Linked DNA regions of Homo sapiens. The protein of the gene in region 5 purifies or fractionates together with the protein of the main gene of each other region. This does not show direct contact. Each region holds a gene or a part of one and is shown on either strand. Other genes may lie near its edges.

Region 1 (3,500 bases), on a different chromosome or scaffold from region 5:
CAGCAAGTCAATGGGCTGAAATATCAGGCATGACTGGCATTTCAATCCACTCTATAAAAAAAAGGCATCAGTAATGTCTTTTTCGAGCACACCACTTTTTGTTCATGTAAAACCAAGCGTTTATATTATGATTTTAATTTCTGCCTTAAGTGAGATTCTGAATTCAGTGATTTGCTATTTATTTAACTATTCCATACTGTACTACTGAAATTAAGAGTATCTCTCATGTTTAATATGACTAGGACTCCAAAACACAAGAACTGAAAAATCTTAAGAATACAACTACAGTCATGCCTGCATAACAACATTTTGGTCAACAACGGACCACTTATACTATGTGGTCCCATAAGATTATAATGGCTATACCACACAGCCTAGGTGTGTAGTAAACGATATCATCTATGTCTGTGTAAGTACACTCTATGATGTACACCAAATGATGAAACTGCCAGACAAGGCAATTCTTAGACTGTATCCCCGTTGTTAAGCGATGCATGACTGTATTTATCTGATATTTTAAGTGATCGCAAATATTACAAAACACACACAATAATATGAATTTTATAAAGCGCTCAGACTACTTTCACTTAGAAGTTTAAAAATTTTCCAACAATTACACAAACCTGTGAGATAAAATAAATCTCAAATAAAGTTTGAGAAGTGGAGCTGATGGAGGTGACGGGCCAATGGGGTGGGACCTAAAACTCAGAATGACCTCAGTAATGTCAAATGTAAAAGTATTTGTTGAAATGTACACAACAGATTTACCCAACCAAACTGAACCTCAGTTACCAAAGTGGATCTGAATAAATTTAAGGTGCAATTATTTCAAAGGGGAACCCTTATGAGAGGCTGAAATAAAACAAAATTTAGTTTTCGGTCTTCCCTAATGCAAACTTGTCTTGCCTCTCTAAAACTGATAAAATCATTTCAAAATCTGAGGGAGCAAAAATATTTATAAAGAGAATGTTGTTAACCCCATGGGGAGAAGAACTTACCTAATACACCACTAGGTTCAATAGGATACTCAAGGATTGATGTAGCTGGTGCCAATGTGTAGGGGTACTCATAGGGTGTATAGATTAAACCAGCTTCGGGCCCTGGAGGAACTATTGCAGCAGTTGGGTGAGGAGTTCCGTTTGGCATGACAGCGGTCTGTATTTGTCTGATCAAAGGCATTATGGTAGGGCCAGCTGGCGTAGGAGTACGCAGGGCAGCTGGTGGGAGAACCGGCGCAGGCCCAGTAATGATCCTTGGAGCAGCCTGGGCTGTTGCTGCAAGAGAAAAGGCAAGGGCTGCTACAGTAAGCAAAGAAATTTAGAAAGAAGTATAGAGACAGCAGTATAAAATACGGAAAAATGAGAAGGGAGTAGGAAAAAGAAAGGAAAAGCAGGAAAGAAGAAAAATAAAAGGAAATCATTAGTACATGCGCTGATCACACAAAAATGCAAAAGCACACCAATCAAATGCAAACAGCTTTCCCTTTCCCAATGTGATTAAGAATGTGCAAAAATTAAAAAGCCATTGTAAAAAAATGAATGACACCATTAAATAGGTTATATTTAGTTCATACATTTGATATATCTAAGATTTCATAAGACTAAAGTACATGCAGAAGCACAATGAAACACTTGCATTAACAGATGTTAAAAAATAATTTGTAACCGGAGTCCACAGAAACTCAGTTTTGGTATATTTCTAAAGTACAGCTTTAGTTTCAAAGTAAAGAAAGAATAATTTTTATTGCATTTAGTCAAGTAACCACTAGGTATATATGTACATTTCCTGCATCTTTAGGAACCAACGTCACAGAAAATCTTAAAAAGCCCTACTTCTAAATTCCTATTAATGATATACTCACATTTTCATGAGTAAATTAATGTCAACAATTTGTAAAGTAACTACTTCTAAACCCACTAGAGGTTGCCTACATCTTCTAAATCTGGCTAGAACTTAAAAATTCTATGTGTTTTAAATAATCAGTAATTTAAACATGGTATGTTCATATAAATGACATGTATGAATCTTAAATTGTTTCAAAATATAAATTTCACATTATTTCATTTTAAACATAAAAAAGCTATCCTCTTACGGCTTATAAAAACATGCATAGATACGCATAAAAACAAAAATAGGACGGAAAAAGAGTTATCACCCACTGATCTCTGTGAACTCACATATGAAATCAACAGGGAAAAATACTAGAGGGAAAACATGCAAGCAAAGTGAAAGGACAGAACTCAACAGAGGGTCATTTCAGTCAGATACACTTCAAATTCACTTTTTCAAAATAAGCTTTCAATATGTTGTCTTTTGCATAAATTTAACAAGATAAGCTGCAAGCCCTACATCTGTAGTTAACCAAACAGAAAATTTCTTAAACACTTGAATTTAGAGATTGTGATTTTGTTAAAATAATGTAAGTTTATCAACCTAAAACTTCAACATGCTGACATAAAATAAAATCAAGAGTGTCCTCAATTCATGAAAGCATTAAAAATAGGACTGTCAGCCCCATATCAAGTGACAGAACAGTTATTTCAACTGTTCACTTTGTATGAACTATTATTGTGTTGCCAAAAGGAAAAAAGTCTGTAGACAAAACAACGCAGACAGCAGTAACCCTGGGCCTCAGAGCTCATTCTTACGTGATTTAATGTTGGCATCTCTGTAGGTGCCATTCAGAATCGCAAGCTCCATCAGCTGCATCTTCTTCAGGCTGTCTTCTCCTTCTGCCTATACATGGAAAACACATGAGATGAAAGCATTTGAGACTGTCCACAAATATAATAGCTATATCTACACACAAGCCTTAAAGTAAGTATCATGTGACTACAGTCACCTGTTTTAATAAGGGGAAAAAAAGATCAAGAACCAAAAGGTGCTAACATAATGGAGCCTGCTTTCTCTGTTTTCTCAGTAAAGGCATGTTGATATACAGCATATTGTATTTGTAAATTTTTTGTCAGTTACACCGATTTATTAAAGTTCCCCTAAAAAGCTTTACTTTTAAATAGAAATGAATGAAAATGTGAGATAAGACTAAACATAACATATTCTCTTCAGCATCTATCATTTTAAAATTACTTTAATTAATTTTATTGTTTTTAGATACAGGGTCTTGCTCTGTTACCCAGGCTGGAGTGCTGTGGCATGATCCTAGCTCACAGCCACCTTGAATTCCTAGGTTCGAGCCATCCTCCTACCTCAGCCTCCGAAGTAGCTGCGACTAGAGGCACGCGCCACCATGCCTGGCTAATTTTTTTTATTTTTTGTAGAGACAAGGTCTCGTTTTGTAGCCCAGGCTGGTCTCAAACTCCTGGCTTCAAGTGATCCTCCTGCTTCAGCCTCCCAAAGTGCTAAGTTTACAAGTGTGAGCCACTGCACCCAGCCAGCAACTATCATTTTGCTGAATATTCCAAAACTCAAATGTGTTCGTTAAACACACACATACACACACGCGCGTGCACATGTGCACACAAATAATTTTAAACATACAA
Region 2 (4,080 bases), on a different chromosome or scaffold from region 5:
ACACAATACGTTCTAGGTCACATGGGCATAAAGAAGAGTAAAACACAGTTCCTGTCCTGAAGAGATATAGTGCTATATAATCATGTCTTTCTGAAAATATATACAACAGTCCAATGTCCAAAGAACATGTTAAAGGGGGTGACTCCATTTCTAGAAAGCTGAAATTGTTAAATACTTGTCCATTTAGACAAAATTTTAAATATTTTTGTAACATTCTATGTATGTTTTTTAGTTTCAATTTTTTTCTTCAAACTGAATAAACTATTGGCTTTTTTTTTTTTTTTTTTTGAGACGGAGTCTTGCTCTGTTGCCCATGCTGAAGTACAGTGGCACAATCTCAGCTCACTGCAACCTCTGCCTCCTGGGTTCAAGTGATTCTCCTGCCTCAGCCTCCTGAATAGCTGAGATTATAGGTGTGCGCCACCACGCCCGGCTAATTTTTTTGTATTTTTAGTAGAGACTGGCGGGGTTTCACCATGTTGGTCAGGCTGGTCTAGAACTCCTGACCTGATGATCTGCCCGCCTCAGCCTCCCAAAGTGCCAGGATTACAGGCATCAGCCACCACACCCGGCCAACTATTGGCTGTCTTAAAACAATAAATAACTGATTAAGAGGAAAGATTTTCACACCTACTAATTTATATCTGTCTCCGTTATATTAAGTTTATAAGACACTTGTCCGGTAACACTAATATCAGCATTTCGATATTTCTGGATTTTTACATTTCTCCTTACTCGTTTAATTAAAAAAGAACTTGCAAAAATATTCATATGCAACAAAATAGCTAAAGACCAGCATAAAAGCTTTAATATGCAGTCATTAAATACTTAGGCAAAGCACTGTACACCAAGCAATGAAACAAAAAAGGCGTGATTCTGGTTCTTACTTGTTTACAGTCTTAGCAGTGGAGAGAAACATTCATCAATCACATGAATAAATATATAATTAGAAACTGCGGCAAGTGCCATAAATAAAATGGTTACTATGGAAACATTTAATAAGAGGACCAGGAAGTAAAAATGATAATGCACTGTAAGGGTGTCAATATACAACGTTCAAAAAAACAGCTTCTTCAAAATTTGGATACATAAAATTTGAAGGCTACCTGTAAATTCAGTATTGATATATAACTACCTCAGAGTTATGATCAAAGTGCTTCAGAAATCCAGTCCAGACTGGAGAAGTCACAGGCTTCCCAGAGAAGATGATAGCTAAGTGCTAAAGGTTGACCAAAAGTCAGTTCAGTGGAAGAGTTGAGGGAAATTATTCCCGGTAGAAACACCATATCTGGGTAGGAATCCAGAGGAAAAAAAAGTACAAGACCGATTCTCGAGTGATTTTAGAATGGGTGGAGTACAAAGTAAGGGGTTGGGAGAGGAAGGTAATGGAAGATGCACTAAGAAGGTAAGGAGAGATCACATCATAAAGGGCTTTATATGCCATGTGAGGGAGTTTGGGCTTTAATGAAAATAATGAGCTGGGCGCCGTGGCTCATGCCTGTAATCCCAGCACTTTTGAGAGGCCGAGGCAGGCAGATTACGAGGTCAAGAAATCAAGACCATCCTGGCCAACATGGTGAAACCCCGTCCCTACTAAAAATACAAAAATTAGCTGGGCGTGCGCCTGTAGCCCCAGCTACTCGGGAGGCTGAGGCAGGAGAATCGCTTGAACCCCGGAGACGGAGGTTGCGGTGAGCCGAGATAGCGCCACTGCATGCGCTCCAGCCTGGGCGACAGAGCGAGACTCCGTCTCAAAAAAAAAAAAAAAAAAAAAAAAGAGAGAGAAAATAATGACAAATCATTGAAGTTTTTTAAGGGAAGGTGCTAAAGTACGATTTGAGCTTAGACCACATTTAAAATGTCTTAAATACTTAAGGAAAACATTTCACAGAAAAACAAGATAACAAAACAACAAAGACAAGAAAACTTAATCTACCCCTTTTCCCACCCCTTTTATTTGATAATAATTTGTGATTATTCCTCGTTAGTGACAAAAAGACTCAGCCCATCGTATCAAGAGCGTGATTTCAAAACCACAGACTTCGGGTTTTGGATGAAAACAAATCTGTGATCTAGGAAGCTTACGTCATTTTCCCTAGATGCGAAAATTTATTAGTGGAAGTGTCAGAGTTGAAATTATCTTTACCTACCATGATTCGAAATAAGCACCGCCTTCCTCTCGCGCCCCAACACATTAATACATTAACACCACTCCTGAACTAAAGCCTTAAAGAGAACTGGTACCCTTTTGCATACCTAAATAAGAGTTCGAAATTCCAACTTCATGTGGCTGCTGTGGGGAGTAAATGAGAGGAGCCAAACACATAAGAATAGGAAAATGTTAGTTTTAGCATCTGTCATAACAAATCAATGATCAAAAGTGTTAGATATTATCAAAAAGACGTTGTACTACGCTTAAATCACTATTTCGTTAAGACATGCAAGTATGGAGTAGCCAGAAGTGAGAGGACGGCCCTCTGTTCTGAGGGCACAAAACTCCACACATCATCCCTCTTCGGATCTGGCTTGAACCCTCCTACTCAGCGGACGCAGCACTCCAATTCGTCCCGGTACTATGTCTGCAGCTACCTTTCCTCTTCTTGGCCAGTGTTGCCTCCACAGGTAAAGGTCCAACCCAGCGCTCTTCGTTCTCCTCATCGTTCTCCTGGGACACCGCCACTGCTACTGCCAGCTCTCTTTCGCTGAGTTCTGTTTTTTCCGGTTCCTCCGGGTCCCGGCGCCTTCTACGTCTCTGCTGAAAATCGCTACCACTTTCCGCCGCCATGTTGTTCGCATCGTCAGAAAAGGCGCGACACAAAACTCAGCTACCAATCCCAAAGCAGCGGCGCAGTCTTCTGTCAGCGTCCGAGCGAGTTTCGGGATTGGCTGGGGTGGGAATGAGCACATCCAATGGGCATGCAGCGCGCGCAGAAGTCCGGGGCTGGCAAGCGCTTCCTGCGCAGCGCCTAGGCGACCTGGAGTTTGTGACGCTGTGATGGTAAGACCTGGGCCGGGGAGGTTGATATAACGGTTGAATCTTGTGGAGCTCCAGTCCTGAAGGTGAAACCCTTATCGCCGGCCAACTAGATACCTGACTTCCCAGCCGGGCTTTGAGTCCCGTTCTTCTCGGCTTCCCGCGCGCCAACGCAAGCTCCATAACCTCACCAATATTTAGAGAAAGATGGAAGGGTGGGGACAGAAGGAAGTGGTTAACTCGCGGGTTTCCTTTCAGATGCACTAAACATGTTTTCTCTCCTGACCTTTATTCTCTCACACACTCTCTGAAGAAGGTGGTGAGTGCTTGTTACTGTTTCTGGGGGTGGGGTGGAGAAGCAGCTACTTCAAATAACCAAAAGACCTAGGGCAGAACGGGTCACTCTTCTTTCTTCTCTCTGGTATAGGATTTCATCTCCTAGCAGTCATCTGAACTCTTTCTCCTCCTCCTCATCTGTCTTCTTCATTTTTAAAAAATTAGGTAAAAAGCACATAACATAAAATGTATTATCTTAATCTCTTTTTTAAAAAATCAAATACAGCTTGTCAAAATGACCTCCGTAAAACACTTCTTTTTTCTCTGCAATTACTTTTGCACCAACCTAATAAAATCCTCGTCGTAAATCTCTTCTCTACTTTTGCCTTGAGATAGGCACCACGTACAGGGAAGGAACTGCCCCCCCATAGTAGGCACTTTATTTTATTTCAAAGGTTCCCATTATTTGACCATTCTACCTAGCAAGTCTCATTTCTTCTCTGCCCTCTGCTCTCATCAGACTACTTTCTTTTGTGTCTCACAAATTTCCCTTGTTCGTTCTTGCCTCCTACTCTTATGTTTTTATGCTTGAAAGCATCTCCACAGCGATTTAGCCTTCATGTTTACAGCTTCTCATCTTTCAGAGACCAATGCAATAATGAGGATGAAGATGATAATGATAATGATAATAATAATGTAGCTAGTTAACATTTATTAAGCATTATTATGGACTAATTCCTTCCGGGTTGGTTTTTCTAAGCTTCCCTATCCTGAATTCCGATAGTACTTGCAGGCAGTGTTGTATACTTTACCATTTCATAGCACTTCTG
Region 3 (3,500 bases), on a different chromosome or scaffold from region 5:
TCTGAGAACGTCTCACTATTTTTATCTAACCTAATACAAAAGCTTCTCTACTCTCTTGATTAATTTAGCTGCCCTTCCCTGAGCCTTCTCCAATTTTACCAATTTTACTCAATCCTTGAGCTGAAGCTAGAACTCTGTTCCACATCCCACAAGCTAGTGGGCATAATGCTGCTTACCTTGGAGGTGGGAGGATGTGAAATTTTATTGTGATGATGACCAGGTCTTTGTTGAGATCCTTGATCCCAAATAGATCACCAGGCTGATGTCTGCAATGAACGCTGTCTATTTGCCCTTTGTTGCATCATCACTAAGCTCAGAAGCAAACCTCTATAAATCATTTTTCTGTAAACAACTTTTTGCATTTGACTAAATACAAATTTATCAGCCAATTTTCTTGCATTTGACTACATTCAAATGTATCAACCAACTTTCTATTTATCCGCCTAAACTTATAAACTATTTCCGATATTTATGACTATTACCTTGGCATTTTTCAGAGGGCAAATCACCAGGCTGTGTACCTCTTCCAAATATTTTATCAAAAATGGTTAATAAATCTGGTCTCAGCTTGATCCTGCTGTTTATTTTTCTCTGTCAGAGATGTCTGTATTGCTACCTGCAGGCTTTCCCTTCTAAGAATTCTCCCCGCATGACAAAATACTCTCCCTCAAGGAAATTAAACGTGTTCAATAGCCTTTGAATGGAACGTTAACAAAGGTTTTCTGGGATGAAGTTTTTGTTTTGTTTTGTTTTGTTTTTCAGATCATAATTAATTTTAAATAGACATGCTTTAGTTTATTTTTCATGTGTTTCTATGCCTGCTCATACGGACATTCTGGGTAGGAAATGCTTGTTTTAGGAACATAATTTTTTAAGGGGAAAAACAAAATTTCTCCAAATTTATTCATTGATTCACATTAGCCTTAAAACAAGATTAAAGGCAGCTATAAAAAGATGTGGTGATGGTATTTTTAGTTGCTTGGTTTGTTTTTAATTAGCTTTATGGCATCTGAAAATATTTCTTCAGATCTTGATGGGAGCGCAGATACCAAAGTTTTATTTTAAGTTGGTATATTTTAGGTCTTTTTTTCTGACTGTTTTGTGCTCAAAACCACACTATTCTGAAATAAATAAAATGAATGTTTAAGTAAAAACACAAAACAGTAAAAACAAAGGTAAGAGAAAGGGACTTACTGTTCATGGTTTTGGACTCCCTATTCTAAATTAAGGATAAGCCATATTTAGAATATATTTAGAGGAGTTTCTAGGGCAAAGCTGCTTAGATGTTAGATGACAGAAAATTATCTGTTTCTGTAACTTCAAATTCATACATAGATTCCATTTCATTCATACCATACTTTGCCATAGACCCTTACAATCTGTGGACAGATCACGGTATGACAGGATTTTAAGAGTCCTCAACCCTCCTCTAGTCTTCTCCCCCTTGTGTATATTAAGGATATCAGACAGTATGTAATCACACAGAACCTTATCCTCCCCTGTGTGGTAGGTTCTCCCACATAGCTCTATACACAGTGGCATGAGGCCATGGATACCCAGTGGGAATCTCATTTAAATAAATAAGTGCCTCTGATGTTTATTTTCACTGCAGACCCTTTGCCCAAGAATGCCTTTAACCACCAGTGGGGTGACATTCGTTTTGCAGGACTCATTCTCTAACTTCCGGCCCTCCACGTTCTGGCCCCGGGCTCTCTTTTGCTAATGTCCTCCTATACCTCCCTTACCTGACCTCTTTACCCCCTAGAGCCAGACCCAGTCTAAATTAGGAAATGAAAGGAATCTTGGGCAGAGAGGCATAGAGAAAGAATAATTGCAGTCAAAGTCAGGGGGCTGTCATTTCGGTCCTAGTTCAGCTCCTGGCTAGCTTGTAGCCTAAATAAATCCACTTAATCTTCTGAAGCTCAGCATTGTCATTGTTATAATGAATCAACTTTCCTGCCAACCTCATCACGTTGTGAGATCTGAGCAAAAGTAAATATATCTGTATATCTTTATAAGATCATAACATGAACTTATTACAGATTGATTTATTCTTAATAAATAAATATGTGTCCCCCAAGCACATACAGGTATGTCACCTCTGAATAATTCACCCACAATCCTTCCTCTGTCTTTGCCCAAGTCACTCCTTCTACCTCAGAAACCTGCCCCCGCCCTTCTCTAAATCTCATTCTTTCTTTCAATGCATTATCCTCCTTAAAGTCTTTTCTAGCATGCAGGGATCACTTCCTCCTTTTAATTACTGTTCTTTTTGTCTGCCTCGCCCACTTGGAATTTAAGCATTTCCTTCATTTACTATATAACTGTCACATCTCCCCAGGCAGAATGTAAGTTCCTCAGACTCTATTACTGTCCTGCAGATGGTGGGGGCATAAATGCTGGCCAACACTCCTCCGGTTATATAGATCACCCTAGTCAGAGGAGAGGAGAGGGACTCAGGAATAAAGGGGTCCCCTGGTTGTTGTGAATGTCTAGATGCAGGCTACGACTTTACCAGTTGGTGAAAACACTCTCCCTTACATTTAATCTGCTCCTCAAGTTTGCAACAGAGAAAATAGAGAAGACTGACCATCTGAACCCATTTCAGGGACTCTTTCCCTATGTTTTGACATCTCCATCCCATTCACTTTCTAGTTGGGCTGTATTTCAGACAGTGTTTAAAATGAGAACCATTTCCAGTCCCCTCTTCCTAAAAAGAGCAGCTTAAAGCTCCTCAGTAAACACTATTTTCTGTCACTTGGCCTCTTTCCAGTTTGATGGCAATAAATCAGGGCATGTATCATGAATTTAGACCTGTGTTGTATTTCTTTTTCATGGCTTCTGTTCCAACTGGTGTGTTGGCTCAATGAGCCTCAGAGGATAAGGAAGCCTGTTTGCATAAGTAAAGAGAGCAAAGAGCAATGGAAAAAAGCTAGAGGGAAGACACTTTAAGTCTCAGATTATTCAAAATACTGCGTTAGGCTCAAAATGCTAGATTTTTTTTTACAGGATTCTGAAAAATAACTTTCAAGCTAATAGTCTGCCTTAGTACAGCAGGAAACCTTAAATTCTTTCCTAAAATTAAACCAAATAAGTAGATGGTTGTCCTAATACACAGATGTCTGAAGTAAAGTTGGAAATATGAACCCACTTGAATTACAGGAGATTCAGTCACCAAAGAATTCTTAAATTTGCACTTGAATTCATTGAATTCAGCATTTGAGGTCCCTTGTTAATTGACAAGTGACTAGATCTCAGAGCGCAGAATGATGGCTTCTCAGCTATACTCCCCATAGTACAATGTTTTGGTGATAAGCTTACCTATAGTCTCACTATCGTCAACCTCAAACTGACACCAAGCAGACTGAAGAATTAGGTTAACTGGAATCCAATCTATTGTTTTTGACTGACTGTTTGGAAAGCCAGAGAATTGAGTGCAGAGGACTAGCTGCGTATTAAAGGCAGAAACTCCACATTTGTGCTTAGCAATCATTTACCAC
Region 4 (3,500 bases), on a different chromosome or scaffold from region 5:
TAACATCTTATATATAGAAATCTCATATATCTTATATGTCTCTCTATATTATATATATATTTATATATCCCTATAGATCTCTCTGTATATCTTATATACATAGATATTATATATCTATATTTTATATACATATCTATATTATATATAGATCTTATATATAGAAAACATATATAGAAAAATTCTTCCCTTCCTATTTGGATGACTTACTTCCTTTCCTTGCATAATTGCTCTGGCTAGGACATCTAGTACTACACTGAATAGACAATGTGAGAGTGAGCATCATTGTCTTGTTCCTGATCTTAGAGGAAAAGCATTCAACTTTTTACCGTTGAGTATGATTTAGCTGTGAGTTTGTCATATTTGGTCTTTCTGTGTCACAGTACTTCTATACTTATTGAGAGTTTTTATTATGAAAAGATGTTGAATTTTGTCACATGTTTTACTGCATCTTTTGAGGTGATCATACAGTTTTTGTCCTCCATTTTGTTAATATGGTATATCTCATTTATTGATTTGTGTATGTTGAGCCATCTTTGCATTCCAGGGATAAATCTCAATCATGATGAATGATCCTTTTAACGTGTCAGTGAATTCAGTTTGTTAGTATTTTGTTAAGAATTTTTGCATCTATGTTCATCAGGGATATTGGTCTGTAGTTTTTCTTCTTGTAACGTCCTTCTCTGGCTTTGGTATCAGGGTAATACTGGCCTCCTAAAATGAGTTTAGAAGTATTTCCTCCTCTTTAGTTTTTTAGAAGAGTTTGAAAATAATTGGTATTGGGAGGCCGAGGCAGGCGGATCACGAGGTCAGGAGATCGAGACCATCCTGGCTAACACGGTGAAACCCCGTCTCTACTAAAAATACAAAAAATTAGCCGGGCGTGGTGTCGGTTGCTTGTAGTCCCAGCTACTCGGGAGGCTGAGGCAGAATGGCATGAACCCGGGAGGTGGAGCTTGCAGTAAGTGGAGACGGCGCCACTGCACTGCAGCTGGGGGGACAGAGCGAGACTCCATCTCAAAAAAAAAAAAAAAAAAAAAGAAAATAATTGGTATTAGTTCTGCTTTAAATGTTTGGTAGAATTCAGGTCATCAGTGAAGCCATCAGGTTCTGAGTTTTCTGTAAATTTTTTTCCCTCAAATTTCTGATATAATCTTTCACTTCTATCTTTCAGAATTGGTAGGGTGCCCCCCTTTTTCACAGAGAACATACAGGCTTTTAAAAAAAATCTGTTAGGTGAGTTTCAGATTTCATGAAAAGGCATCGTTAAATGACATTACTTGGATTAATGTCAATTTATAAGAACCTGCCTAGCACCCAAAAAGCTCCCAATGACTGATCAATGAGTTTATTTCCTCCCTCAAGGCCTCTTTTCCCACCTGGAAGATAAAATCAAGGCAGGAGTCTTCACCCAGGGTAACTTTCACCCTGAGTCCTCTTTCCTCTAACTGTCACAATGGTGCCTTGTCACCCTTCTGACATTGCTTCTAAATTTGAACAGGGTTGTAACCTTGTGGAAACTAGAACCACTGCCTGCCCTGACACCCTGGAAAAGCAGATACATGTTGGCACAAAGGATGTTTTCAATAAAGACTTTGTAGTAGTATCTTAAAAGACTATTTAGTAGCAAATACTAAATTGTATTTAGACTTTTAGTCTTAAAATACTTTGTAGTCGCAAATAAAGACTAAGAAAATAGTTTTATGTTATGAACATTTACGATCTTGGGAATAATTCCAGGTGACATTGTTCTTAATTTCTTTTAAATTCTTAATGACTTTTACAATCCTACCTTCATGCCTGATAAAAAAAAATGACAGTTTATTCAGTAGTTTTTTTGAATTCTTTTACAGTAAATGGAAATGTTTTCTAACATATAAAAACCTACAGAAGAAGAAAATAATTTTCTGGATCAAATTAGAAGTCTGTATTATATTGATGTCTCCAGATTCAAATATATTAGAAAGCAGCCGTGGAGACAACCATCTTCATTTTGGGAGAAATAACTAAAGGTATGTATTAAGCTCAAGATGATAGCCTAAGTAACTTCATGCAGCATATAAGAAGCTTTTAGTTACTGTTAGGCAGTATTCAGAGTTTTGATCTTCACAATTTTCATGACATGCAAGTTTAATAATTGTCATCTCTAACGATATTTTTAAAACTTCATGCCCCTAATTATTGAAGCTGGGTGATAAGAATATAAGGGTTCCCCATACTACACTGTTTATTTTTGTATATGTTTAAGTTTTTCCAGATTTTAACAAAAAACCCACAAACTATATTAACACCTCATTTGTTCCTTACTGAGTTTTCCAGGTAAATTGAAGTTTGTCAAAAGTTTATCATGCCCATGCTAGTTGAAGATCATGGCAATCCATTTTCCTCAAGCTTTCTTTAAATCAAGCACTGGAGTGATATTCATGTTGGTTGGATGTCACCATTGTCACTGAGTCTGGGAGCTGCTCACCAGAGTGGCTGCTGGGGCCCATGAGTCTGTTCACTTCCCTCTAGCAGCCAGTCTGCCTGCCTTCCCTGCAGAAGTAACTTTAGGCAGCCAGACAGCCTTGTCCCCTGAGGTTGTTCTGGAGACACTACACCATGTTTCTCTAACCTCTTCTCTTTTTGAGTGTCAATCTTCTTCTACAGTCTTTTTGATTGCAGAAGAGACAGGATACATTGAAAACGTGTTGACTTGCTTGCTTATTTGTAGGTGAGGTTTATCATATTACTCCTTACGCACTGTAAAATTCACGCTTTTTATTATACAGTTCTATGAGTGTTGAAAAAAATCACAAAAATAAAGATAATGTAATTTTACGTTGCTCTAAAAATTTCTCTGCTCCCCCTTACTCCCCCGACCCCTGTCCCTGGAAACCACTGGTGTGATTTCTGTACCAACAGTTTTGCCTTTTTAAAATGTCTTATAAATGGTCTCAAAAACTATGTAGCCTTTTGTATCTGGCTTCTTTCACTTAGCATAATGCTTCTCTGTCTCTCTTTCCCTCTCCCTCCCTCTGTTTCTTCCTCTCTTTTTCTCTTTCTCTCTTTCTCCCTCACTCTCGCTCCTGCTCTGGCCTTCTCTCCTTTCTTTGACAGGGTCTCACTCACCCAGGCAGGGAGTCCAGTGGCACAATCATGACTCACTGCAGCCTCAACCTTCTGGGCTCAAGTGATCCTCCTACCTCAGCCTCCTGAGTAGCTGGGACCATAGGCATGCACTGCCATGCCCAGCTACTTTTTTGTAGAGATGGGGTCTCACTTTGTTGCCCAGGCTGGTCTCGAACTCCTGGGCTCAAGTGATCCTCCTGCCTCAGCCTCCCAAAGTCCTGGGATTACAGGTGTGTGCCACCATGGCTGGCCCTTTTTTTTCTTGTTGTGAAGCAATTTTATTTTGAAATAATTTTAGGCTTACAGAAATGTTGCAAAAATAGTACACAGAGTTCTCATTATACCATTTACCCAATTTCCTCTAATGTTCACATCTTACCTAACTAGAGTGC
Region 5 (3,500 bases):
GCAAACAACAAACTAAGAGAAAATATTTGCCATTTATATAACAAAACGAGGGCCAACCTCCCTAATAGATAAAAGGCTCTTGATATTTAAGAAAAATACCAGAAAGTTGATAGAAAAATGGATAAAAAGACCAACAGTCCACAGAAAAAGAAGCAAAAATGGCACTTACATGTTAGAAATAATATTCAACCTCACTCCTAAGAGAGAGCAAACTGAAGTCCACTGACCCATCTTTACCCCTGAGAAATGCAAAAGCCCAAGAGCCTGACAACTCACTCTGTGGCATCTCATGCGTCCTAGTGGGTGTGCATAATGATTCAAGCCCATGGAAAGGAATTTGGTTTACTTCCTACGACTCTGACCTAACAGTCGACCTCCAAAATTTGTTTTTTTTAATTAAAAAAAAAAAGAGACAGGGTCTCGCTATGTTGCCCAGGTTGGTCTCAAACTCCTGGGCTCAAGCGATCCTTCCATCTTGGCCTCCCAAAGTGCTGGGATTATAGGTGTGCACCACCGCACCTGGCCATACCTCCAAAATTTGAAACAGCACATACATCAAATGGTTCATCACGACATTATACTTTTTAATAGCAAAAGACTGAAAACAACACAAACATCCATGAAAAGGGGACATATTAAGTAAACTATGGTACATACATATTACAGAGAACCAGGAAAGAAGAAACGGATTGAGGAAGTTAATGAATTGAAACAAAGTGATTATCATGATCTATTTTTAAGTGAAAACAAAAAAGGGTATAGAACAGTATAGATAGCATGTTCCCTTTTGTGCAAGAAGAAAATACTTTTATATGTATGTATGCAAATGCTTATTTTTGCAAAGAGAAACATAAAAAAGAGAAACCGGAAACTAATGTTACCCACAGTGGGAACAGGGTAGAGATAACAGGGAGGAAGTTACAGTCTACAGAGGATACCATTTTATATAGGTTTGACTTTTAATCACGTGAAGGTTTTACACATAGTCAAAAACAATAATAATAATAATTATTATTTTTGAGACGGGTCTCACTCTGTCACCCAGGCTGGAGTGCAGTGGTGTGATCTTGGCTCACTACGGCCTTGACCTCCCTGGGCTCAGGTGTCTCTCCCACCTCAGTCTCCTGAGTAGCTGGGACTACAGGCGCACAGGCTGGTCTCGAACTCCTGGGCTCAAGCAATCTACCCGCCTCGGCCTCTTGAACTGTTGGGATTACAGGTGTGAGTCACTGCACCCAGCGCAAAAATAAATTTTAATTTAAAAAGGAAAAAGTAAGGCACATTCCCAGGAAATTACTTTGCTAGGTCTGACTCACAAGGCAGTTTCGTGGACTGATAATACCTTTCTCCTCTATCTTGTACCAAACTCATTTAAAAACGACCTTTGCATGCTTCACAAAACAAAAGAACCAAAAGAGACATTGTTGGTTCTCCATAAAATAGACACAAGCCAGACCTCTCAGGCGAACAGAAGGTGCAGCCAGCTACCAGTAACACTGCCTAAAGTCCCAGCACTGGCTCTGGCAAGCCCAAACTGTATGGGCACTGTGGTCCCTCTCCACCATGCAGGCCACCTTCCCCCAATATGTGGCTGTGTGGTTTGGAGAACACTGACCCCTTCCTCTCAGTTCCAATCCCATCCCACCTCCCCAAGCCTAAAATAACACCAGAGGTTGAGATAGGGTCTGATCAGTACAAAGCACAAGAATTTCCCCTCATCTGCTATAGGAGGTTTCTCTCCTCCCTTCTAGGGGCTCACAGGCCACAGGCTAACCTGGTGGCTCCTGGCAGCCATCTTGGGACTGAAAGAAACTCACCCTGACGAAGCTCGCCCATTAGTGACTGCAATATCTGTTTTTAGAGTTTTGGTATTCCGTGATATTCAAATACTAAAATACATGAGTTTTTATTGGTGTAATTCCATCATTATTTCATTATTTCAACATTTAAAAAATTCAAGTCTATGACTCAATGATTCCACAGAAAAGACAAACGGATGGGTTGGCTTCAAGTCTAGACTCGCCTTCAGAGTCTGTCTTCTCCAGAGAATCATCGCAGATCACAACAGGCAGCCTTCTAATTATGCATCACGAAGCTTCTACCCACAGGGTAATTCCCACTCTGGTCCAACTAGTAGAAGACAAACGATAACAGAGTGTGGGAGCACTTCGTTGTACAAGCCAACGGTGCCCGGGTGCTGTCTGAGGCAGGTTTTCTGTCACCACTGCAGAGCACACCCCAGCTGATTACATCCTAAGTACCAAGCCCCCCACTGCAACCTACCAGGTTTGCATGGTCGTCACATCCTGGGGAGACACGTATTTGGGTCTGCGGCAAACCTTTTTAGTTGTGCCATAGACCAGGTTTTTCTGAACGAAGGCTGAAAAAAAACATAACCAGTGAAAAAATATACATATACATATACATACACACAGGATGGCAATGTTTTATAAACACAAATTAGATAGATTTGAAAGCTTATCCAAATGTGTAAAACCCAGAATCAGTCTGTTAAAAATAGGGCCATTTTACACATTTCAAATATTCATAAAGAAAATAGGTATCCTTAGGAGACTGGGTTTAATGAATAGAGGAATGATTAGTAATTGACATATCAATTACACATGAGTGCTTTTAAATTGTTCCTTCCAATCTTGTTTAAACCATTATTTTGCTTGGCAATTTTTCCCAGCTTGGATATAAAAAAGCCTCAGCCCAGCCTGAGATCAAACTACCATGTCTTGAGTTAGTGGGATTCAGAGTTAATGTAAGTTTTATGACTTTGTTTTAGTTAAACTATGGCAGTATTCATCAACCTTTCTAAACCAATAATATCTTTAATAAACAAATTTCTTGCTTCCCCACCCTCAAGAATCCCATACTCATCCTGAGGATTTGGGGTTGGGGGAACTGGCCCCTCAAGTTGAAAAATGACAAATACCTAGCAGTGTTTGTTCTGTCCTTGCCTGCCAGGAAAACCCTCTCAAGTCTTACATTTTTTTTAAGAGATGGGGTCTTTTGCTTTGTTGCTCAAGTGGACCTTGAACTCACCAGCTCAAGTAATCCTCCCACCTCAGCCTCCCAAGTAGCTGGGACTACAGGTTTGTGACACCATGCCCAACTAATTTTGTTTTCATTTACAAAACATTTTAATATTAAAAATTATAGGTGTCCAGAATTAGCCTTATTGCAGTTGAGCATAAACTGGATGGTTATCCAAGTGTGTGTCTCTTAGGTTGCAGCTGAGATGGTCACTATTCCTGGAGGTCCATCCACATTCTCATTCAGAGCCCATGATCCAGATGCAGCAACCATGACCCCTTCTGTTACCCACTACTCAGCCGCCCATCAAGACCATTCTCACTGGCATATTTAAATGGGTGTTACTGGCCTACTGGCCATCTGTGATGAATCTTAAATGGCTTTCACTGGTGAAATTAAAAGTGAGCTAAGATACGTGGACTGGCTAAATGTGTGTCAGACACATTCCCTACCCTTCT
Region 6 (3,500 bases), on a different chromosome or scaffold from region 5:
CTCTCTCAAAAAGGAAAATTACAAAGGAGGAATCACAGAAAATTTAATGTAACATGTTTCTTCATATTCTAATTTTTCCTACCCCATTCTGGCCTTTATCTTCCAGATGTTTTCTTCCTCTTCTTTCTCTCCCCATAGTTTGCAAGCGAACTTCCCGTAAGTATATCCTCCCCACAACCTTAAGTGTTGTTACCTTAGCATCCCTACAAACCTCCTATAAAGAAGGCCCCTACCACAAATGCAGTAACATTCGGGTCCACTCAGCAATACAGTCACCATTTATATATACCCAAAGGTTACTAAGACAAGGTAGATGCAGGACAGCTTTTCCACCCGCTCACCAAAATGGAAACTCCAGGTCAGCTTCCACAAGAAATGGGAAATTCAAGCGACTCTGGCGAAACGATTCTTGAGAAAACTCTTCAAGGGCAACAAAACAATATTTCAAACAAACAGATTTTACTTGAGGGAATGGGGACATTACACAGCAATTGATATTCGAATGGTTTTAAATGGACTGATTCGCCGTAAGTTTTGAGGCTGAGCTAAATTTTTATGAAGAATTATTAGGAATAGGGCCACTAGAAAATTAAGTTTTAAAAGCGCTTTTGTCCTTGCCGAAGGTATTACATTTTGGCACTTCTAAGAACCGTTCTTTGAGGGAGGGAATAAAGGAGAGTGGACAACTCGTAGCAAATCCTTTTCCCATGTTTTCAGAAAATGTAGAGACGATAGGACTTGAAAATCTTTGTCATAAAGATGGTCTTTAAAAATGCACACAATTCTAAATGACCATCTGGGCAGCTACAACTGCATGCTCATAGCTCGCATCTAGAGGCATGGTTTTACGCTCTGGCCCTGAAGGATAACAAGGAGGCTTTTAAGGAAATGCCGTGAGAAAGACTGCTGGCTAAGCATTGTCACGGCCACTGGAGGAGCACCTGCCAGTGAACCGACGCTGGCTCCCCCAGTCTCACCAGTGCACGCACACTAGTCCGTGCACCCCGGCCGCCGCTGGCAGGCCCTACCAGCCAAGCTGGAGGAGCAGCTGCCGCAACCACGGCAAGCGAACTGAAATCCCAGAGCCGGCCTCGCCCGGCAGAGCGCCCGCGCTTCCCGCGCAGCGCACGCCTCGCGCGCAAACCCGAGATGTGACCGCGAGCTGCGACCTCGCGCGGCTGCGACGGGCCTCACCTAACGCGCACGAGGGGATCATCATTGCTCCTGCCCTGGGCGCCCGCGGCCCTACACCACCTCCGCACACAACGCGGCCGGTGTTAAGTCTCCAAACGCCCCGAGAGCTCCAAGGACCGCGCGCGCGAAGGCGCCGTAGCAAGTGGGCACACACCAGACACCACCCCGGCGTGTTCCGCGGGAGAAGCCAGTGCACACATCCTCCCGCAAGGCGGGGTTGCCAGTGCAACACAGGAATCCTGCCCTTTTTCTAGAAAAGCCCCCTCCCCCACTTTCCCTCCAATACACTCACCTGCGTCTCAACAGTTTCCTTCTTGCGCTACACGCGGCCGCACCCGGGCACGTCCACGCCCGTGCACGCTGCCAGGCGCGACTGTCCCCGCTCGGCTCCCGCCGCCCCCAACCTGCTTGTGCCCACGGGAGGGGCGGTGCCACCTCCCGAGGCGCCCAATTCTCTCTACTCCCGCCGCAACGGGCTGAGCTCTAGGAACTTCGCGGGCACAACCTCCGCCGCCCCCACCAGTGTTCCCGCCCAGAGTTCGGACTAGGGCGCACCACCCCTACCCTGCTAGACGCAGCGGGGGCGCGCACAGACCTTAGCCTCGGCGTCCAAAATGGACCAGGGGCAAGGCGCGGACGCCGTCCCCGCCCCCACGCCCCCAGCACTTGCCTGCTGTGACTCGAAGCTGCAGCTACTACGGCTCGTGCCGCTGGCCGTCAGCACTGCCGCGGAGGAGTCGCTCGGGGCGAGCTCCGCGGAGAGGCGGTGGCGGCGGCGGCGGCGGGAAAGGGGACTGGAAGCCGGCGGAACCCCCGCCCCACCCGCGCCGCGCCGCGCCGCGCCGGCAACCGCCCTCCTCACCCGGCCGGCTACTGCCTCAGTGACGCCCAGGCGCCGCGGTCCCGCCGTTTGTAGCGGGGCGGGAAGGAGGGGCTTGCTTGGAAGAGCGCCAGGAGGCGGGGCCGGCGGCGAGTTCGCGGCGCCGCGGCCGCCGCCGGCGCGTGCCCTGCCCGACCGCCCTTCGGGTCCGTGCCGGCAGGGAGATGCCGGGCTTCAGCAGCTCAGCTCCGTCCCTCCGGACTTCCGAGTCTCACCAGGCTTCCCCGACAAGGTTTCTCTGGACTCGGTGGAGAGCGTTGAGCGCCCAGAGGAGGCTGATTCCAGGTGCAAGTTTGCAAATCCCGAGGCCCGGGGCGCTAACGGGGAGTCAGAGCAGCTAACGTGGGGGTTACTTTATGTGTTCATAAATGTATTTATAAATATATATAAGTATACACACATATGTGTGTCTCTTTTAAAAATTCTCTTTTTCCCCCTACTTCGCAGCCAAGGGGTCCTGTCCCTGGACAGAAAATAAAGGCTTAGCCCCCTGCTGCCCCTCCCTGCCTCTCTAGAGAGAACCTGACGTTTAAATAAGCCCAGAGTACCTGTGCGGGGTGCTGTACTCTGCTTCAAACGCAAAGTAGGAAATCCTGCACTCGACTATGCAAACGCTTGCCGCTAGCCGCATCCTTCTATCGCCCCCCAACTCAAGACCCGAAATGGCCAACTCTTCACCGAGGGGGCGTCCCATCGCTGCCTTGCCTTGGCCCGCCCCTTCGCCAAGCTCAATCCCTTTTCCCCAGAAAAACCTGTGCCTGTCCTCAGACCCGGCCCCACGGCTGGAAGTCAAAACCCACCCCGGAGCCACGCGGCTGGAGCACGTTTTTACACCTGCTCGGCCGCTTAATTACGAGAGCACCTGTAGTTGGGATTTTTTTCATTGCAAAGGCATCGATTTTAGCCCTTCTCCTAAAATACTACATTTAAAAAATCACCTGTCATACCTACCTGAAATTGTAGGAGGTAAGAGAAAGGAACCGAGCAGTGGGCGACCCAGTCGCCGCAAGAACGTGACCGAGGTTACAGCTTCAAGGGCATGATGCAGGTTTGATGCAGCAAGGTCCGCTAAGGGCGTCCAGCGCTCCCCGCCCCCATGCGACGGGCGGAGCGGGGTTGGGGGGAAGGGAGGGGACTCGTCTAACCCAGGGCGGGTGTGGGAGAGGCAAATTTGCCCTCTTGGGCGAAGTCTAATCAGCATAGTGAAGTAGGGGGCTCAACCAAGGTCAAAAGCGAGATAGGCCATCCCTTAATTTGTGCGACCCAGTCTGGGGACACCGGATACAGCTAACTGATTCTATATCAGCATTTCCGTGTCACCCCAAATCCGATTTGCAATTAAATGACCTTAATTGACTTTGTGTGGGTTCCTGGGAAAACTGCTCAAAGCGCCTGCGCCTCTTTGACCTCTCAGTAAATAGTTAAT
Region 7 (3,500 bases), on a different chromosome or scaffold from region 5:
CTATACTCCACTCTTGTCACAAATTTACATACTCTTAAGTATTATTTTTGTTTACTATTGATAGGTTGCTTCAGAAATGTTGAGATGGTTTTTCTCCCCAGAGAGATTTTTCAAATAAAGAATATTTTTATAATAAAGAATATAATTGATTTTAGGTTCCTTGGGATCAAAGATTGTTCTAATTCCTCCGGGTGCCTAAGATAATAGCAACAGCCATAATAATGATAAATACTTATTATGTGCCAAGCACTACTCTAAGCATTTTATGTATATTGATCCCAGCTCTAAGATATAAATGCTATTATTATCCTCAATGTACAAATGAGGAAACTGAAGAACAAAAGATAAAGTAACTTGCTTTGGGTTACCCAGTTAATAAATAGCAAAGCTGGTATTCAAATCCAGATGGCCTGGCACTGAATGCTATATTATTATTATTATTATTTTTAGAGTCAAAGTCAAAGTCTTGCTCTGTTGCCCTGGCAGGAATCACTGCAGCCTTGAACTCATGGGCTCAAGTGCGCCTCCTGCCTTAGTCTCCCAAAGTAGTTGGGACTACAGATGTGCATCACCATGCCCTGATAATTTTTTTTTTTTTTTGAGACAGGGTCTTGCTATGTTCCTCAGGCTGGTCTTGAACACCTGGGCTCAAGTGATCCTCCTGTCTCAACCTCCCAAAGTGCTGGGATTATAGGCATGAGCCACCATGACCAGCCTATTTTAAAAAAAAACTTAAATTAAAATTTTTTAAAGAGATGGGGTCTGGGTATGTTGCCTAGGCTGGCCTCCAACTCCTGGGCTCAAATGGTCCTCCAACCTCAGGCTCTCAAGTAGCTGGGTTACAGGCATGTACCACTGCATCTGGCTCATATTCTTAATCCAAACAAGATGGTTTCTACATAGTGTTGCATAGTGTACACTCAAAAATTATTTAATTTTCAGGGATCACCTGTGCCAGTGCAAGAGAATAGAAACAAAGACTTACCGTCTGCCATTCAATGTGGCCCTGGACAATCTGGAGGGTCAGGTTGTTCACGACCATTGCATTGAAAGAAGGGGTGGTTTCTTGTCCCAGCTCACTCTTCCCTAGGATGAATTCTGAAGCAGCTTTAAAGGCAGCAACAGTAGGGTCCTCATTGCTCACCAGGTGAATTTCTTTCAAATTACTCATCATTGGCTTCCCTTGCAAACTAACCCGGATAGTCTCTACAATAGTCTTTGTACACAAATTCAGAGGGAACTGAAAAATCCCAGAGCTCAAGGCTGGAATTGCTACTGTCTTAATGTGAGTATTTTTATAGATGACATAATTCAGAATACTTACAATGGCCCTCTGCAGCTTTCCAGTACATCCCTGTTTATCCCATTCCATCCACCGAGGCCCAACAGCATGGATGATCTGTTTGCAGGGAAGCCTCCCTGCTCCCGTGACAGCTATCTCACCAGCTGACACTTTACCATATCTGGCAACAAACTGTTTGCTCTCTTCTTGGATTTCAAATCCACCAGCTTTTACCAGGGCCAGGGCCAGGCCTCCCCCATGCAGAAGATCTTCATTGGCTGCATTCACCACAGCATCAACAGCATGTGTGGTGAGGTCATCTTTCCAGACTGATAACTCTATCCTAGGAGTCAGCATTTTTCTGAACACTTGCAGAGATTTGCTGTTGCCTTCCTGAACTGGAGAGACCAGGGTAGAGATACAGCCAAACTTATTCTGGAGGACTTCACACAGCTGACGCTCATTATTTTTTAAAATTTTGAAGTCATTGTGGTTAATGGGAATTTGCCAACTATAGTTTTCTCCAAGAGCACCAGTCTCTGGAAAAGAAGAGAAGATTAAAAAAAAAAAAAAAAAAAAAAAAAAAAAAAAGCACAGTTTGAAAGGTTGTAATCCCACTTCATACCAGGAGACTGTGTTTCCTATGTGCAAAAGAGAGATGAACTTCATGTAGTGCTCTTCATGATTCTTCTTCTCAACTACACATATAATTAGACCACGGACATCTAAGAGTTTTCAGTGGTAGGTCACCCATAAAGTGCATAGTCTTGTGCCTGGCATATATTAAGTACTCCATAAGTGGTAGTTACTATGATGCAGTGATGATGGTAGGAAAACCATGTATATGGGGGCTTGTGAATTTTTAAAAATATATATAAAAGTGGCGAGCTTAGAAAGACCAATGCTTAGGGCACAGGTATTGGAAGGGACTTAATTATGAGCCAAAATAGGCGGAGGTTTTATAACTTTTTTGCCTTTGTCAGCATCTAAGTTTATGTTTTCTTAAGAGTAGACCCTGAGACAAAGATGTGAATGTAAGTAGTTTATTTGGGAGGTGATCCTAGGAAATACTAGGGCCTTGGGGTGGGGAGGGCAGGCTGGGAAAGTAAGACAAATGAACAAAGCACGTGTAACTAGGCAGATGGAACTTAACTCTACTGGGAAACAGTGTAGATCTTGTGCCTCAGGGTTATACCACTGGAGGGGTAGTAACCACAGGAGCTGGAGTATTTATCCAACTTCTTTTTCTTTTGAGACAGGGTCTCACTGTGTTGCTCAGGCTGCAGTGTAGTGATGCAGTCTTGGCTCACTGCAACTTCTGCCTCCTATGCTCAAGCCATCCTCCCACCTCAGCCTCCTGAGTAGCCAGGGCTACAGGCTCACAGCACTACACCCACACCATCGTGTCCAGCTAATTTCCGTATTTTTTTCTGTAGAGATGGGGTTTCACCATATTGCCTAGGCTGGTCTCAAACTCCTGATTTCAAGCAATCTGCCCACCTGGGCCGATTGAAATAAGGTAGTATACCTGTTATCAATTGATGGTAAGCCCCAGTTTAGCTGGCATTTTTTCCCCTTTCTCAGAGGCATTTCCCAGAGTGCTCCAAAAGATTCAAGCAATCTGCCCACCTGGGTGGCTTCAAAAAGGCCACCATGCCTGGCCTACCCAACTTCTATTGGTCATTGATTGAGGCAGTTCCCTGGTGAGGAGGAGTAGGGGAGACATTGGACCAGCCAATGAGCACTGATACTGTCTGCTTCAGTTCAGTAAATAATTCTTTATGATATTCTAGTCTGGCACAATTTTGGTGAAATTAAAACTAATTGACTAAAAATTATTTACCGTATGTGGCAGACAAGAAGATGTGCTACTCAGATCTCCCTGCGATTGGCTATGAAGTGGGAAATACAGTTAGCTGACAGCCTCCAGCTGTTAGCCCCTCAGGGTTCATCTCAGCTTTCAGCCAAGGTCATGCTATTCTCAGGGCAGCCTCCATCAGTAGCTGAGCAAGGCCATTCATGCCCAACGTGGGACACCTCTAACAGTCAATCTCAGGCTTGCAGAGACTGTCGGGTTTTTATTACAGTCTGATGGCTAGTCTGCCCAGTCCGGCTTCCTCTCTTTACCTTTCACAGTGAATTTTTTGCACTCCTAATTCCATCTCAAATTCTGCTTCCTGGAGGACCCAGCTTGGGACACTGTATTTCATGGTGTCTA

Evidence for each region.
Region 1: the proteins of PARP12 (region 5) and QKI purify together in Homo sapiens (co-immunoprecipitation; one large-scale study listed by IntAct). This does not show direct contact.
Region 2: the proteins of PARP12 (region 5) and PPWD1 purify together in Homo sapiens (co-immunoprecipitation; one large-scale study listed by IntAct). This does not show direct contact.
Region 3: the proteins of PARP12 (region 5) and CCDC80 purify together in Homo sapiens (co-immunoprecipitation; one large-scale study listed by IntAct). This does not show direct contact.
Region 4: the proteins of PARP12 (region 5) and SIRT5 purify together in Homo sapiens (affinity purification with mass spectrometry; one large-scale study listed by BioGRID and IntAct). This does not show direct contact.
Region 6: the proteins of PARP12 (region 5) and ELAVL2 purify together in Homo sapiens (co-immunoprecipitation; one large-scale study listed by IntAct). This does not show direct contact.
Region 7: the proteins of PARP12 (region 5) and PARP9 purify together in Homo sapiens (co-immunoprecipitation; one large-scale study listed by IntAct). This does not show direct contact.

What each region holds. Positions count from the first base shown.
Region 1 is NC_000006.12:163,561,218-163,564,717, reverse strand, and holds part of QKI (KH domain-containing RNA-binding protein QKI), read right to left. Parts: intron 2,737-3,500; coding exon 2,649-2,736; intron 1,299-2,648; coding exon 999-1,298; coding exon of another isoform or gene 973-998; exon of another isoform or gene 52-972; coding exon of another isoform or gene 8-51; exon of another isoform or gene 1-7. UniProt on the Homo sapiens protein: RNA reader protein, which recognizes and binds specific RNAs, thereby regulating RNA metabolic processes, such as pre-mRNA splicing, circular RNA (circRNA) formation, mRNA export, mRNA stability and/or translation.
Region 2 is NC_000005.10:65,562,016-65,566,095, reverse strand, and holds the start of PPWD1 (peptidylprolyl isomerase domain and WD repeat-containing protein 1), read right to left. Parts: upstream 2,801-4,080; 5' UTR 2,786-2,800; coding exon 2,590-2,785; intron 2,294-2,589; coding exon of another isoform or gene 2,257-2,293; intron 1-2,256. UniProt on the Homo sapiens protein: PPIase that catalyzes the cis-trans isomerization of proline imidic peptide bonds in oligopeptides and may therefore assist protein folding. May be involved in pre-mRNA splicing.
Region 3 is NC_000003.12:112,631,144-112,634,643, forward strand, and holds part of CCDC80 (coiled-coil domain-containing protein 80 precursor), read right to left. Parts: intron 1-3,500. UniProt on the Homo sapiens protein: Promotes cell adhesion and matrix assembly.
Region 4 is NC_000006.12:13,577,601-13,581,100, forward strand, and holds part of SIRT5 (NAD-dependent protein deacylase sirtuin-5, mitochondrial), read left to right. Parts: intron 1-1,171; exon of another isoform or gene 1,172-1,233; intron 1,234-1,850; 5' UTR 1,851-2,009; intron 2,010-3,500. UniProt on the Homo sapiens protein: NAD-dependent lysine demalonylase, desuccinylase and deglutarylase that specifically removes malonyl, succinyl and glutaryl groups on target proteins.
Region 5 is NC_000007.14:140,031,952-140,035,451, forward strand, and holds part of PARP12 (protein mono-ADP-ribosyltransferase PARP12), read right to left. Parts: intron 2,381-3,500; coding exon 2,284-2,380; intron 2,131-2,283; coding exon of another isoform or gene 2,088-2,130; exon of another isoform or gene 564-2,087; intron 1-563.
Region 6 is NC_000009.12:23,819,741-23,823,240, forward strand, and holds part of ELAVL2 (ELAV-like protein 2), read right to left. Parts: intron 3,393-3,500; exon of another isoform or gene 3,026-3,392; intron 2,816-3,025; exon of another isoform or gene 2,623-2,815; intron 2,081-2,622; exon of another isoform or gene 1,865-2,080; intron 1,570-1,864; exon of another isoform or gene 1,487-1,569; intron 1,417-1,486; exon of another isoform or gene 1,195-1,416; intron 1-1,194.
Region 7 is NC_000003.12:122,554,301-122,557,800, forward strand, and holds part of PARP9 (protein mono-ADP-ribosyltransferase PARP9), read right to left. Parts: intron 1,822-3,500; coding exon 986-1,821; intron 1-985.